Regions from separate parts of the Homo sapiens genome. Here region 1 is linked to region 2. Evidence: fine-mapped expression QTL. A gene starts in region 2. The other region holds a variant in brackets. All regions are shown on one strand. Distances are from middle to middle.

Evidence for each region. PIP is the estimated chance that this variant, and not a neighbour inherited with it, causes the effect.
Region 1: its variant is fine-mapped to the expression of APLP2 in whole blood (TOPMed, PIP above 0.99).

What each region holds. Positions count from the first base shown.
Region 1 is chr11:130,039,360-130,047,688 of GRCh38, forward strand. No RefSeq gene overlaps it. Among named protein-coding and RNA genes, the nearest start is that of APLP2, 26 kb to the right of the region's middle. The variant A/T (reference allele first, on the strand shown) is at 4,383.
Region 2 is chr11:130,066,644-130,074,972 of GRCh38, forward strand. APLP2 (amyloid beta precursor like protein 2) reads left to right here and starts at 3,251. Exons shown (of 17, transcript NM_001142276.2): 1 at 3,251-3,439. The coding sequence starts at 3,335. LOC107984432 (a long non-coding RNA gene) reads right to left here and starts at 3,006. Exons shown (of 2, transcript XR_001748444.2): 1 at 2,821-3,006; 2 at 1,235-2,470. RefSeq lists enhancers at 1,942-2,442, 2,443-2,943 and silencers at 2,860-3,089, 3,480-3,609, 3,680-4,139.

The sequences.
Region 1 (8,329 bases), 27 kb before region 2:
GTAGCTGGGATTACAGGCATGCACCACCATGTCCAACTAATTTTTGTATTTTTAGTAGAGACGGGGGTTTCACCATGTTGGTCTGGCTGGTCTTGAACTCTTGACCCTGTGATCCACCCGCCTCAGCCTCCCAAAGTGCTGAGATTACAGGCATGAGCCACCGGCTCAAAGCAGTGTTTCAGAAACTTAAGTCTTTCAAATGCCACTTTCACTATTTTTTTTTTCCATAATGGCTACTTACCACCTGTACAATCAATTGTTAACCTAACGTTTTTATTTAAACCCACTTGGTTTTTAAAAAACTTATAAATGAGGCCAGGTGCTGGTGGTTCACACCTGTAATCCTAGCACTTTGGAAGACCAAGGCAAGTGGATCACTTGAGCTCAGGAGCTCAACACCAGCCTGGGCAATATGGCGAGACCCCCATCTCTGCAAAAAATGCAAAAATTTGCCGCGGGAGGCTGAGGTGGGAGGACTGCTTGAGCCCAGGAAGTCGAGGTTGCAGTGAGCCACGATCGTGCCACTGTACTCCAGGCTGGGTGACAGAGTGAGGCCCTGTCTCAAAAAACAAACAAAAAACCTTACAAATAAAAAACAGATTTTAGGCCAGGCACAGTGGCTCACGCCTGTAATCCCAGCACTTTGGGAGGCCGAGGCGGGCGGATCACGAGGTCAGGAGATCCAGACCATCCTGGCTAACACGGTGAAACCCCGTCTCTACTAAAAATACAAAAATGTAGCCGGGCATGGTGGTGGGCGCCTCTAGTCCCAGCTACACGGGAGGGTGAGGCAGGAGAATCGCTGGAACCCGGGAGGCAGAGGTGGCAGTGAGCTGAGATTGCACCACTGCACTCCAGCCTGGCAACAGAGCGAGACTCCGTTTCAAAAAACAAACAAACAAACAAACAAACAAACAAACAAACAAAAAACACCGATGTCTATGGTAAATGGAAAGTCACTACAGTCACGCGCCAGATAACGTTTCAGTCAACTACAGGCCGCGTATGCGATGGTGGTCACGTAAGATTATAGAGGGGTCTTTCCTTTCTGCGCCCCGGGAGACCTCGGCGTTGCCACGGGCTGCGCCCCCGGTGTTGCTGGAACTGCAAGAACGAATTTGCACCCCAAGCCTCGGTTCCGCTGGGGGCTGGGGAGTGTCCCCGAGGCCAACACGTGTATCTTTGACCTGGGACGGAAGAAGGCAAAAGCCTTCCCCCTCTGGCCACATGGTGAGATCCCTACCTGGTGTCGGATGAACGCGAGCCGCTCCACTCTGCAGCCGGGGAAGCTGCGCACATTTATGTCAAGCGCACGGTCAAAGTGGTGGCCGGGACGCTCTCACCTCCCAGGGCTTCCCCACCCCGTCCGCGTCATCCTCAATACAAGGTCTCGTCCTGCGCTGGGGCTGCAGGCTCCAGACAGGCCTGCAGGTGCCTGTGGAAAGCCCCCGCGGCCGGGGCCAGGTTCGCAGGGGCCGGGTTGTCAAGTCCGTCCGCACCAAACCGCGGAACACGGAGCACATGACTGTGCAGGGCCAAGGACAGGTTCCCGGCGCCAGAAGACCCAGGTGTCGGAGACTGGGCTTTGCCACCTTCGATTCGGATGAATTTGAAGACATGTGGCTGAGAAGCGGCTCATCCCAGATGGCTGTAGGGTCCGATACATCCCCACTCGCGGCGCCCTGGGCAAGTATCGGACTCTGAGCTCATGAGAGATTCCACTGTGCTGTCCCCTCCTAATGCTCATTAATAAATCCTACTTCCTGTCAAAAAAAAAAATTGGCCCAGCGCGGTGGCTTACGCCTGTAATCCCAGCACTTTGGGAGGCCGAGGCGGGCGGATCACTTGAGGTCGGGAGATCGAGACCAACCTGACCAATATGTTGAAACCCCGTCTCTACTACAAATACAACAATTAGCTGGGTGTGGTAGCGGTCGCCTGTAATCCCAGCTGCTGGGAAGGCTGAGGCAGGAGAATCACTTGAACCTGGGAGGCAGAGGTTGCAGTGAGCCAAGATCGTGCCACTGCACTCCAGTCTGGACTACAGAGAAAGACTCCGTCTCAAATAAAAAATAAAAATTTAAAAATTTTTCAAAAATTTAAAAGTTAATGTATTATTGAAGAAATAAAATTTTTAAAATAAATTTAATGTAGCCTAAGTATAGTGCACAGAATGCCCCAGGCCTTCACATCGCCTCACTGCCCGCTCATTGACTCACCCAACTTCCAGTCCTGTAAGCTCCAGTCATGGAAAGTGCCTAGACAGGTGTTCCTTTATAAAAAAAAACTTTCTTTTTTTTTTTTTTTTTTTTTTGAGACGGAGTCTCGCTCTGTCGCCCAGGCTGGAGTGCAGTGGCGCGATCTCGGCTCACTGCAAGCTCCGCCTCCCGGGTTCACGCCATTCTCCTGCCTCAGCCTCCCGAGTAGCTGAGACTACAGGAGCCCGCAACCACTCCTGGCTAATTTTTTGTTTTTGTTTTTGTTTTTGTTTTTTAGTAGAGACGGGGTTTCACCGTGTTAGCCAGGATGGTCTCGATCTCCTGACCTCGTGATCTGCCGGTCTTGGCCTCCCAAAGTGCTGGGATTACAGGCGTGAGCCACCGTGCCCGCCCCCAAAAAAAGTCTTTCATTTGGCATTTTTACTGTACCTTTTCTATGTTTAGATACACAAATACTTACCATTGTGTTACAATTGCCTGCAGTATTCAGCACTGTGCGGTATACACGCAGGAAGGTAGCCTGGGAACCATAGGCTGTATCATACAGCCTGGATGTGTAGTAGGCTGTGCCATCTGGGTTTGTGTAAGTGCACTCTAGGATGTTTGAACAATGATGAAATCACCTGATGATGCGTTTCCCAGACATATCCTGTTGTTCAGCAACGCATGACTGTACAGTGTACAGTGAAAATAAGCACGAGGAAGGCCAAATGGTCTTAGTTTGTGGATGGATGCTGTTGCCTAAAGAAGGCTTGCTCTCTCTCTGAGTAGGGACAGAAAGGAGGCTAAGCGTGAGAGAGGCGGCTTTGCCATACTAGATGCAATCACACTGGAGACCGGGGTCCACGGTCGAGAACAGAGAAGCGCTTTCGCATTTCCCGCTGTTCCGCAGAGCTGAAAGACTGAGGCCAGACACCTCCTCAGGGCTTATCACGGTGGCTCACCTGCTCCTGCGGCTTCATCATCATCCAGTCAGAGTCCGTGGAAGCGGAGCTGGAGATGCTGGGGATAGGGGTTGGGGTCGGGTGGCAGGTAGCATGACGTGGAGGTTCAGTGAGGGGCCTGGGAGAATTGCTGAGAATGGGATAGTCCGAAAGGCGCGGCTCGCAGCCTGTGGAGTGTGAGGGGACCTGGGGAGCCCAGTGTGCACCCCGTAGAGTTTGGATGTGTATGACCCTAATCGTGACCCCTAGGAATGGGAGCTGAGGGACAGTTGAAGTGGTCAAGCCCTGGTGACCCTCCCATGTCGGGGAACTGCACAGCTCACCAAAAAACTCACCCTCACACTGCCATGAGAGTCTGAACTCGGATTCCTGGACAAGCGGGCATCAGCAGCCAGGGAGGGGCCGTGCGGCCCAGAGAGGACCACAGGGCATCTCTTGTGGAGGGGGGCATGTGTTCCCTTCCCCGGAGGAGAAAGGAACCTAGAGGGATGCAGAAGGGCACCAGGCAAACACTAATTTGGATATGAAATTAAAAATTTAAACGACACTGGCTTTTTCTGGTAACTAAAACTGATCAGATATTTATGGGCTCTGCCCAAGAGGTAGTTAAGAGAAACTTACCTTTCCTCAAGTTAATGGCTTACCAAGAATATGGGAAATATTTGGAAAGAGGGAATAATCTTTCTTCCCTACAATGAGAGAGAGATTGAGTATGTGGAAGGTGGTAGTTAAAGAAAGTGAAATATTTCTTTTGCTACTCCATTTGATTCAGACTGTTCAGTCAATTGGGGAGAGAAGGATTAAAACAATTTCAAAATATTTCATTTTTGTACCCTGCCATTCAACTAATGCCTGTTATTGTAATATCTAAAATTATCTTTGATATCTGCTATATTTTGGGAAACTCTGCTCTAGGGGAAGTGAAGAGTTGCTCCCGGCCCCACCCTCCAACCCTGGGGTTGCCAGCGAAGGTACTGAAAGATGTGGGGTAGAATGGTGTCTAACCTGTTTCTCTTCTCAATCTTCAGCAACCTTTGTCTACCTTTTATACTTGACCAAAATGACCATTTTCTCTCCATTTATATTTTCCTCTCTTTTTAACCACAGAGCCACCAGCGTTCCAGCTTGTTATTTCCTCTTTCTGTTTTCCTCATTTGCTCTGTTTCTCTTCCCTCTTCCTGATTTCTTGATGCTTGCCTTTCGTTGGTCAGCAAGGGAG[A/T]AGTTTGCCCAACAGACTTTACTCTCCACTGACCGTTCTTAGGGCAAAATGAAAACCCCAGGCTGGAGCTGCCCAAGGCACTGTGAGAGGCAGTGCATCAGCCGGGTGCAAAATCTCCCGCCTGCAAAGCCAGGGGTGAAAGCCAGGCTGTGATTTCAGGTTCAGCCTCTTGTTAACTATTCAGCCTTGGGCAAGTCTCAACTTCTTTTTTTTTTTTTTTTTTTCCCAAGGAAGAAGAATTTTTCTTAGTACAGCACAAAATGAAAAGTCTCCCATGTCTACCTCTTTCTACACAGACACGGCAACCATCCGATTTCTCAATCTTCTCCCCACCTTTCCCCCCTTTCTATTCCACAAAACCGCCATTGTCATCATGGCCCGTTCTCAATGAGCTGTTGGGTACACCTCCCAGACGGGGTGGTGGCCGGGCAGAGGGGCTCCTCACTTCCCAGTAGGGGCGGCCGGGCAGAGGCGCCCCTCACCTCCCGGACGGGGCGGCTGGCCGGGCGGGGGGCTGACCCCCCACCTCCCTCCCGGATGGGGTGGCTGCCAGGCAGAGGCGCTCCTCACTTCTCAGATGGGGCGGCCGGGCAGAGACACTCCTCACTTTCCAGACGGGGTGGTGGCCGGGCAGAGGGGCTCCTCACTTCCCAGTAGGGGCGGCCGGGCAGAGGCGCTCCCCACATCTCAGACGATGGGCGGCCAGGCAGAGACGCTCTTCACTTCCCAGACGGGGTGGCGGCCGGGCAGAGGCTGCAGTCTCGGCACTTTGGGAGGCCAAGGCAGGCGGCTGGGAGGTGGAGGTTGTAGCGAGCCGAGATCACGCCACTGCACTCCAGCCTGGGCAACATTGAGCACTGAGTGAGCGAGACTCCGTCTGCAATCCTGGCACCTCGGGAGGCCGAGGCAGGCAGATCACTTGCGGTCAGGAGCTGGAGACCAGCCCGGCCAACACGGCGAAACCCCGTCTCCACCAAAAAAATACGAAAACCCGTCAGGCGTGGCGGCGCACGCCTGCAATCGCAGGCACTCTGCAGGCTGAGGCAGGAGAACCAGGCAGGGAGGTTGCAGTGAGCCGAGATGGCAGCAGGACAGTCCAGCTTCAGCTCTGCATCAGAGGGAGACCGTGGAAAGAGAGGGAGAGGAGGGAGAGGAGGGAGAGGAGGGAGAGGAGGGAGACGGGAGAGGAAGTCTCAACTTCTTGAATGATGTTTCTCCATCTGTTAGGTGGGATTAATAATAATACCTGCTTCCTAGACTTCTTAGGAAACTCAAATGAGGTGACATGAAAATACACATCATAGATTTCTAGAAAAAAGTTTCCTTTTATTGTTATTATTTTATTTATTTATTTATTTATTTATTTATTTATTTCCAGAGATGGAGTCTCACTCTATCACCCAGGAGGCAGGAGTGCAGTGGTGCGATCTCGGCTCACTGAAACCTATGCTTCTGGGGTTCAAGTGATTCTCCTGCCTCAGCCTTCCAATTAGCTGGGACTACAGACGCAAGCCACCATGCCTGGCTAATTTTTCGTATTTTAGTAGAGATGGGGTTTCACCGTGTTGCCCAGGCTGGTCTCCAACTCTGGAGCACAGGCAATCTGCCTGCCTTGGCCCCCCAGATTGCTAGGATTATAGGCGTGAGCCACCACGCCCAGCCATGCTGGTGGTTTTTGATGGAACGTTTTTTAAAAAATAATTTTTCTTTTTCTTTACTTTTTTATTTTTTAGAGACAGAGTCTCACTCTGTTGCCCAGGCTGGAGTGCAATGGCAAGATCTCAGTTCACTGCAAACTCCGCATCCTGGGCTCAAGTGATTCTCCTGCCTCAGCCTCCCGAGTAGCTGGGATTACAGGTGCCTGCGACCATGCCCCGCTACATTTTGTATTTTTAGTAGAGGTGGGGTTTCACCATGTTGGCCAGGCTGGTCTCGAACTCCTGAACTCAGGTGATCCACCCACCTCCGCTGCCCAAAGTGCTGGGATTATAGGCGTGAGCCACTGTTCCCGGCCAAAAAAATAATTTTTCTTTTTTTTTTCAGACAGAGTTTTGCTCTTGTCGCCCAGGCGTAGTCCAATGGCACCATCTTGGCTCACTGCAACCTCCGCCTCCCGGGTTCAAGCGGTTCTCCTGCTTCAGCCTCCCAAGTAGCTGGGACTACAGGCATGTGCCACCACACCCGGCTAATTTTTGTATTTTTAGTAGAGACGGGGTTTCGCCATCTTGGCTAGGCTGGTCTCGAACTCCTGACCTCATGATCCACCTGCCTCGGCCTCCCAAAGTGCTGGGATTACAAGTGTGAGCCACCGCACCCGGATTTTTCAAAAAATAATTTTTCTAATTAAGATATGTGTATATGTTTTAACATCTTTCAGAAACATAAAATTGAATGAAAAGAGTAATTTGCAGAAACACATGCAATATAATTTATTGTGCATTTTTAAACACACAAAGCAGGACTACATGATGTTCATGTGTGCGTGTGTATATATATATATATTTAAACACACAGACAGGCCGGGCATGATGGCTCACGCCTGTAATCCCAGCACTTTGGGAGGCCAAGGCAGGTGGATCACCTGAGGCCAGGAGTTCCAGACCAGCCTGGCCAACATGGAGAAACCCCCTTGCTACTAAAAATATAAAAAAAATTAGCTGGGTGTGGTGGCGGGTGCCTGTAATCCCAGCTACCCAGGAGGCTGAGGCTGGAGAATCTCTTGAACCTGGGAGGCGGAGGTTGCAGTGAGCTGAGATTGTGCCATTGCATCCCAGCCTGGGCGACAAGAGTGAAACTCCATTAATAAAATAAAATAAAATAAACACACAAAGCATATGCTTCTTCTTATCTATATTACTTATATATATGCTTTTGTAATATATATGTGTATATTACATATGTGAGCATATAATTACATATATACATGCTTTGTGTGTTTTAAAATGCACAATAAATGCATATATATATATACAGAAAATAATCACACACACGCACACACATGTGCGTGGGAAAAGTACTTAGAATGGCAGCTCTTGGGGCAGAATGAAAACCTAAGACCAGGGCTACCTAAGACACTGTGAGAGGCAGTGAATCGGGGTACAAAATCTCCCACCTGCAATGGGTTGGAAAAAAGATAGGAAAACATTCTAAATTCACATTAAAGATTGCTCCTGGGGAGAAAGTGCAATGGCACTGGGGAAGGGTACACAAGGGGCTTCAGCTATAGCTATAGTGTTTTATTTCTTTCTTCAAAAAAGGAAATGTGTAAAACAAATATAACAAACTGTGAACAACTAACTGTTCCATCTTGATGGTAGGCACGTGTTTACTGTATTATTTTCTGTGCTTTTCCCTATTGAAAAAATGTGTTCTTAAGAAATGTTTTAGGGCCATTTGCAGTGGCCCATAATCCCAGGGCTTTGGGAGGCCAAGGTGGGAGGATCACTTGAGGCCAGGAGTTCAAGTCTAGTCTGGGCAACATAGTGAGACACTTGACCCTTGTCTCTACAAAAAAAAAAAAAACAAAAACACCTTTAACCAGACATCCTAGCTGTTCAGGAAGCTGAGGCAGGAGTATCACTTGAGCCCAGGAGTTCAACATTACAGTGAGTCGTGATCAAACCACTGCACTCCAGCTTGGGTAACAGAGCAAGACCTTGTCTAAAAAAAAAAAAAAAAAAAAGTTTCAGCTCAATGCTAAAAATCTGGAGAAAACAAAATGATAAAGGCAATAATAACAATAACCTAACTAAAATAATAGAAATAACAACTATAAACATTTTTGATGTACATACCTCTCATCTTTTGTGTTTATTTATACATACAAGTGCAGTTTTAAAACAATTGAAGCCTGGGTGCAGTGGCTCACACCTGTAATCCCAACACTTTGGGAGGCCGAGACTGGTAAATCTTTTGAGGTCAGGAGTTCGAGACTAGCCTGACCAACA
Region 2 (8,329 bases):
AATACACTTCGTAGTTGATTTTGAAAAGCATCCTGATTTGGGAGCAATTATCCTAGCCAACTGTACCTAGCCTGAATAGGTATTGGATAAATAAGTATCAAATTAATGTGAGGGTTCTCCTCATGTTAAGTATACATTTAGGAAAATCAACTTTGTTTTTTTTCAACAAGGAAATGCACACATCTTAAGTGTGCATAGAAGAGAGCTGATTTAGGAGAAAGTCTGATTCTTAAGAAGGTAGAAGAAACATGAGGTTATTTTATTTTACTTTATGTTATTTTTATTTTTGTGAGACAAGAGTCTCGCTCTGCTACCCAGGCTGGAGTGCAGTGGCACAATCTCGGTTCACTGCAACCTACGCCTCCTGGGCTCAAGCAATTCTCCTGCCTCAGCCTCCGAAGTAGCTGGGACTACAGGCGCCTGCCACCACGCCCAGCTTTTTTTTTTTTTTTTTTTTTTTTTTTGTATTTTTAGTAGAGACAGGGTTTCATCATGTTGGCCAGGCTGGTCTGGAACTCCTGACTTCAGGTGATCCACCCGCTTCGGTCTCCCAAAGTGCTAGGATTACAGGTGTGAGCCACTGTGCCCAGCCAGGAGGTTATTTTAGGTCCTTTTGCTTTTATGCATAAAAGATAATAAAATGAAAACATACTACTCATAAGCCTTGGTCACTGACATGAGCATATTTGGAATGAAAAATTATTGAGAATTGCAAGACCAGGTATGTTCCTGTCAGTGTCATTTAATAAAAAGACCATAACATTTTAAAGTACAGAATGTTGATGAATGGGGCTATCAACTCTTAGTAACGATCCTTCCATAACTTGAAAATGCAAATAAACTTCTTTCAAGACCTAAGTTTAGACTGAAGGCCCTCTAAATTATGTTCCTGTATTTCCTTGTACTATCCCATGATATTAAAGCTCAGTCTTGAAGATACAGTCTCCAAAGCATGAATATCCACGCCACTGAACTCAGATATCTCACTTGCTTTTCCCTGAGTTCAAGGCCCTGATTTTGTAGGTGAGGTAACAGGCCCCAGAGGGGCTACATGTCCTACCCTAGGCTCAACAACTCAATGAGGATTTAGGTAGTCACTTGATACTTTTCCCACATACTTGCAGATGAACCTGCACTTAGTAATACATCGCTTTACCCTCCTACCCCTTACATTTAAGTCACTTCATGCTTTTCACTATTGTACATTCATTTTAAGTTCAATCACACAAAGCGGTGCAGTGAGACAGGTTTTAATATTCACATTTGACAGAGAAGAAAAGAGAGTCCCAAGCGATGGAGGAACTTGCCGGTGATCATGCGGCTGTGTCAGTCAGCTCCGGCTGCTGCAACAAAATAACATAGGCTGGGGGGCTTCAACAACAGGGATTTATTTTTCACAGTTCTTGAAGCCTGGGAAGTCCAAGCTCAAGGTGCCACTTTGGCCCCTCAGTGATGGACCTCTTCCTGGTTTGCAGATGGCGGCCTTCTTGCTGTGTTCGCACATGGAGGAGGGAGGTGAGGGCTGAGGTTGGGGGTAGGGGACAGAGAGTGTGAGAGAAAAGCAAGCTCTTTGGTGTCTCTCCTAATAAAGGCACTCATCCCATCATGACCTGCTACCTCCATGACCTCATCCAAATCCGATTACCTCCCAAAGGCCCCATTTACAAATAACCATCACACTGGGGTTCAGCGCTTCGGCACACACATTAGGGGTGGGGACAAAATTCGGTCCATAGCAAGAGCCAAATTCATGCCAGTTCCAGAACTAGTATCAGCACCCAAGATAACTGGGTTCAATAACACTGGGCAAACATTTATCGAGGACTGCACTGTGAGGGGCACTGCGGCATGACAGACCCAAGTCTTGTCAGTGACCTGAGAGAGGTATGGAATAACTAGGGAGCGAGTGCCACAGTGGGAAACATCCCTCTGAGCAATCAGAAGCGATATTTCAGCCGACTGAGCCGAGGAACAGTGAAAACGCTTCCAACAGGCAGATGTTGGGGAGAGGACATTGCAGGCGCAGAAGAGTGTTAGGAAGGGCTGTGAAATGGAAAGGTGTCGTCTTGGAGGAATCGGGCAGAGCCAGTTTACCCACAGGGAACTGGGCATGTAGGGGAGAGTGGTGCAGAATAAGGCTGGAAAATCCCGAGTTCTTACAGGCGCACTCGTCTACTCCGCGGACAGTCTCTTCCTTTCTATTGTCAGCGTCCTGGGGGTAGGGTTGTGTTATGCATTTAGTTGAACCTGAAGGGACTAGTCCAGGTCTCTCAGAAGGCAGTACCTAACTCACAGGCGACTGAAAGGAAACAAGGCCAGCGGAGCCCTGGCGGTGGCGAGGCTGTGCCAATTGCTAAATGGGGCAGCAGGACGTTTTTCTCTACTGAAGTGGCAATGCCGCGGAGCAGGAAGGCAGAGTAGCAGGTCTCCCGCTAGTGCGTCTCAACCGAAGAAGCGGCGTGATCTCTTCCTAAAACACACGAGGAAGGGGGCCTGGGCTGTGAGGCCGGCGTGGTTCTTGCACCCCTGGTCTCTATCCCTGCCTGGGCAACTGCTGGGAAGGAAGGGTCGGCAAGAGGCCTAAAGACCGGAGGCCAAGGGTGCGGAGCGCGGCCGGACTCAGAGGCGAGGACCCGGCGGAGAGGCCTGGGCGGAGCAGGGCGGGAGAGGCGCGCCCTGAGTAGGGCTCGGGGGAGGACGATGGCTGCCTCCTGCGGTCCTCCCCCTGCCTCGGGGGACGGCCCTTGGCAGACCGTCCCGGACTCCTAATTCATCCTGTTTTTAATAAAACCATTTCCAGAATCAAAAAGAGGGCGGTACCCAAAGGAGTCTGAAGAATGCCCAGCAGGGGCAGGGGAGCGGGGCGTGCCCGTATCGGGAGGCTGAAGGCTGACGGACCAGCGCAGCAGGGACAGATAACCGCGCCGGGGGGCGGAGGCCAGAGCCAGCCCCGCGCCCACAGGGTTGCGGCCCCAGACCCGCCGCGCGCACGCCCCCGCGCCTGGCGGCCACAGGGTCCGGAGCGGGGGCGGGGCCATCCGCGGCCGGGGGCGGGGCCGGGCGGGGGGCGCGCGGTTGGACCGGGCGGGAGGAGCAGGCTCTTCCATCTCCTGATTGGGTCTGGACCGCAAGGGGGCGGGGTCTTGAGGGGTTCTGCGGGCCGGCATTGGGAGCCGCAGAAGGAGGGCGTGGTAATATGAAGTCAGTTCCGGTTGGTGTAAAACCCCCGGGGCGGCGGCGAACTGGCTTTAGATGCTTCTGGGTCGCGGTGTGCTAAGCGAGGAGTCCGAGTGTGTGAGCTTGAGAGCCGCGCGCTAGAGCGACCCGGCGAGGGATGGCGGCCACCGGGACCGCGGCCGCCGCAGCCACGGGCAGGCTCCTGCTTCTGCTGCTGGTGGGGCTCACGGCGCCTGCCTTGGCGCTGGCCGGCTACATCGAGGTGGGGACCGGGCGAACGCCGGAGAGTCGTCTCCTTCGCCCGCCGGAGGAGCGCGGACTGCGGGCGGGCAGCGGGGTCCGCGGCAGGGCGGGCCGGCGGTGCGGCGCCGGGGGTCCGGCTCTGCGGCGGGTCTGGCGCGCCCTCCCCCGCCCGTCCCTGCTTGGCGCAGTGCTTAGCGCTGGAGGTCGGGCTGCCTCAGCCGCCGCAGAGGCCAAATGAAAGGCGTCGGGGCTGCTGGGGGCGGCCGTCCGCCTCGGCCGACCCAGCCCCCAACCCGCCCGCGGCGCCGCCACCTCCTCCGGGGACCCAGTGCCCCCGGGCGCCCGCCCCGCCCTCCCCCGGGACAATGCCAGGGCGCTCCTCTCCCGCCGGAGTCCGCGGCTGGGCTTTCTCCAGGGGCGGCCCCGCGCGGACCCCGTACGCTCCCTCGCGCGGCACCGGGGCCTCGGCTCCGGGCCTCCCACCTGCGAGCGGCGGGCTTCGCCTTTGTTGCCAGGTGGACGCGGCCCCGGCCTTCGCGCGCGGCAGGGATGCTGCGAGCCCCGGGGGAGCTCCCGCGCCAGGCCGCCCGCTGCTCCCTCTGCCGCCTGGGGCCGGGTCGCGGACGCGCATTTTTTAAGTGGCGCTGTTTGCCTGCGTCCGTAGACCGAGGAAACCCGCTCTGGGTGCGTTGACCGCTTTCGTGAGGGTTTCAGTGAGTAGGGAAGGTGCCCGCGAAGGCGTGTAAACTGTTGGAAAAATCGTCCTCTTCGGGTGTCAGAATTCCATCAGTGGTTGTGCTTCGAGGTCGCACCCTGAGCATCCCCGCTGCGAGAAAGGCGAAGCGGCAGGGCCGGGGGTTGGGGAGGCCGCGGGAGGGGGCGGGGGCGGCGGGGTCCGCGGTGCGGGCCGGAGCGGGCAGCCTTGGAGGAGCCCTGCTGTGGCCGAGGGAGACGGCGAGCTTGATCTTTACTTCCCTTCTCGAAGTGGTGCTTGAACTGCTGGTCTGGAATGTGTAGTTCTGGTGTCGTTTATTTCTTCTCCCTCTTCGCTCTTTTAAAAATTACAACTGGTTTCTGCATACTTAGCTAATTTCAGAGAGACCTGAAGACTGGATTTGATTGGGCATTAATTGAGAGCTTTCTTTTAAAGACCTCAGGTTTAGAATATATTTACTTCTACAGAATGTTCAAGTATTTCCACGGGTAAAAATAAATCTAATAAAAAGCCTCTCTGATGGAACGGCTTAACACCTTTGTATTCATCCAGTTTAAAGCTTTGTGACTGTGAGGGTAAGAAAGGAGTTCAGCTTTAAAGAGAAATAGTTAACGTTTATCTACAGAGGATTTTGGATTGCGATTGTTTCAGTGTGTCCACACAATGGTCAGAGTTGTATCTGTGATCCCTGATATGTCGCATGAAAACAGCTAGGTGAGTGAGATGGGAAGAAAAAATAAAGGCTTTCGTATGGAAGATGGGACTTCACTAGTGGGTCGGGTGTCAGAAACCATCGTTCACACTCGCACTCCACTTCCCACTGCTATGACTAATTTGAGGCATTAGTGAATTCACAGTAGAAGACTCAGCAGTTTTAAAGAATTCGTTAATACTTGTGTAGCGGGAAAAAATAATATGAGAATTCATTGTTGTGTGTTAAATTTGATTGTTAGCCACAGCGTTGTTCAGTTGAAAAGTATGGTTGAAGAAAGTAGGAATTAAACATTTCTGAAAAATGGTTTTATGGTAACTCCTGTTCTTTGGAGCTGTATTTTTGCTCACACTTACTAAATGATCTTTCAAGGGGCCTTTTGTCAAGCTATCAGAATTTTATTCATATGAATATAATTTGATTTTGTTTATTTGCTGTCAGGCAAGGGACTGTCGAAGCTTAATTTAGATGAGAGTGGCCTAAATCAGGATGTCTTTGGGAAGGCCCTGATTGAGATTAGCGAAAGGGATTCTGGCCAAATCCCTGATCAAGTTGCTTGGCACAGAATTATTGATTGGCAAATCTTTAGTGTTGCTTGGTGTTGACTGAATTAATCTCTTACACCTGTTTAAAAAGAAAAAGCTCACCTCTGGACTCAGGGTCACTTCCTCTCTTAAATCCGAGACAAGTTCTCCTGTGTGCATGCTCCCATTTGGGACTGAGACAGTATTGTGCTGAAACCCCGCATACTGTGCAGTGGATGACTAGGCTCCTGAGAACCGGAACTTGAGTTTGTTCTGTCACATTTGAAAGAAAGAAGGCCATTTGATTGCCAGTTTTCTGGAAACTCAAACCCAAATTAAAGGATGTCAACTGAGGCAGAGTAGAGAAGGCTTTGTGTTGGTGTTTCTGACAGGTGGTATGGGAGATGTGTAATTGTACCTTGGAGAGAAACCTTGGTGTGCTTCTGATAGGAATATCGTCTTTTTTTTTTTTTTTTTTTTGATACGGAGTCTCGCTCTGTCCCAGGCTGGAGTGCAATGGTGGGATCTCTGGGCTCACTGCAACTTCCGCCTTCCGAGTTCAAGCGATTCTCCTGCCTCAGACTCCCAAGTAGCTGGGATTGCAGGCGCCTGCCACCACGCCCAGCTAATTTTTGTATTTTTAGTAGAGACAGGGTTTCACCATGTTGGCCAGGCTGGTCTGGAACACCTGATCTCAGGTGATCCACCTGCCTCGGCCTCCCAAAGTGCTGGGATTACAGGCGTGAGCCACAGCGCCCGGCCCGTTATTTTTATCATAACTATGTTTTAAAAATCTTTTGATAAATACGATAAACTTCAGTTTTATCAATTAGTTCCTCCTTTTGTAGAGGGAATTTGTTTTACCATCTAAAGCCAGGCTTTCCCAGGGTGTAGCCACAAGCCACATGTGGTTATTGAGTCTGTAGGGTGACTAGTGTGAATGAGGAGTGAATTTTTCATTTTATTTAATTTTAATTAATTTAAGTTTACATTTAAAATCTGATTCAGTGGTTGGAAAACTTTTAACTGAAATAATTTGGTTATGCGAATTTACTTTTAAACTGTACATTTTATGAAATCTAAATGTAGATCAAGTATTTCCTATGAAAATTTAGCTTCTGAATTGAGATGTACTGGAAGTGTAACATACACATCAGATTTTGAAGATTTAATACAGAAGAATTAAAATCTCAATTTTTGTATTGACTAAATTGAAACAATACTTTAGACATGGGCTAAATAAAACATTAAAATTAATTTCACTTGTTTCTTTTCACTCTAATATGGTTCCTAGAAAATTTAATACTATGTATGTGGCTCACATTGTATTTCTGTTAGATGGTGCTGATTTAAAATTTTGCTTAAAGTTGGTCCTGCATATGTTTTTATTAGCAGAATTTTTTAATATGTTCCTATATTTTTCCACATAAAGTCTTGCTGGAAGTTGGCCCAACATGCTCTTAAGTATTTTTGTTAGAACAATTTTGAATGTGTTGATTTTTAAACTTTTTCAATTAAAAATGTTTTACTTAGAAATAACTTTAATCACCAGGCGCGGTGGCTCACGCCTGTAATCCTAGCACTTTGGGAGGCCGAGGTGGGTGGATCACGAGGTCAGGAGTTCGAGACCAGCCTGAGCAACATGGTGAAACTCCGTCTCTACTAAAAATACAAAAATTAGCTGGGCGAGATGGCGTGCGCCTGTAATCCCAGCTACTCAGGAGGCTGAGGCAGGAGAATCTGGGAGGTGGAGGTTACAGTGAGCCGAGATCACACCACTGCACTCCAGCCTGGGCAACAGAGCGAGACTCCATCTCAAGAAAACAAGAATAAAAAAAAGAAATAACTTTAATCTTATAAAAAATGCAAAAATTGTACAATTTTCTTACCCTTTACTCAGATTCACCAATTGTTAACATTTCTTCTAGTCACATTTGCTTTACTACTGCATTTTTTGCCAAATTATTTGAGAGTAAGTTGCATACGTCGTCCCCCATCCCCTTTACCCCTGAGAACTTCAGTATATATTTTCTAAGAGCCAAAGACATTGTCTTACATAGGCTTAGTACAGCCATCAACCTAATGAAATTTAACATTGATACAATACTTGGATCTTATCTGCTGTCGGTTTTCTAGTTAGTTTGTTGACCCAATCATGTTCTTTATAGCATTTGAAAACATGTTTTGTTGTTGTTGTTGTTGTTTTGTTTTTCTTTTTTGAGTTGGAGTCTCACTCTGTCGCCCAGGCTGGAGTGCACTGGCATGATCTCGGCTTACTGCAACCTCCGTTTTTCAGGTTCAAGCGACTCTCCTGCCTCAGCCTCCAGAGTAGCTGGGACTACAGGAGCCCACCACCATGCCTGGCTCATTTTTATATTTTTAGTAGAGACAGGGTTTCACCATATTGGCCAGGCTGGTTCCAAACTTCTGACCTTGTGATCTGCCTGCCTTGGCCTTCCAAAGTGCTGGGATTACAGGCGTGAGCCTCCACACCTGGCCCCTTTCAAGATTGTTTAATTCTGTTTACCCTTACTAAATTTTGAGGCTTTTGGATTTTCTTTCTAAAATAACAGAAGAAGAATTCTATAGGTAGTACATATTCATTGTAAGAAATTTAAAAGTACAGATAACCAATAAGAAGTGAAAAATGACCTAAAATCTTATTCCCCAGGGAAACCTTACTGTAATATTGTATATACCCTTCTGTTAATAGATAGGTCATGTACATAAATTTTATAAAAATGGCACATACTGCATATTGAAGCCAGCACCTAACAATGATTATTTCGAATTATGCTAACATGAACTACTCAAAGAAAATAATGTTTTCCGTGTGACAAAAAGTAGGGGTAAATCTTTGTACAGTAATTGTAGTTTCCATGGAGGGGCCAGTTGAGAGAGAATTCTAAATTGCCTATAATTCAATTTTCATGGGTTGATTTTTAATGAGATAAACTA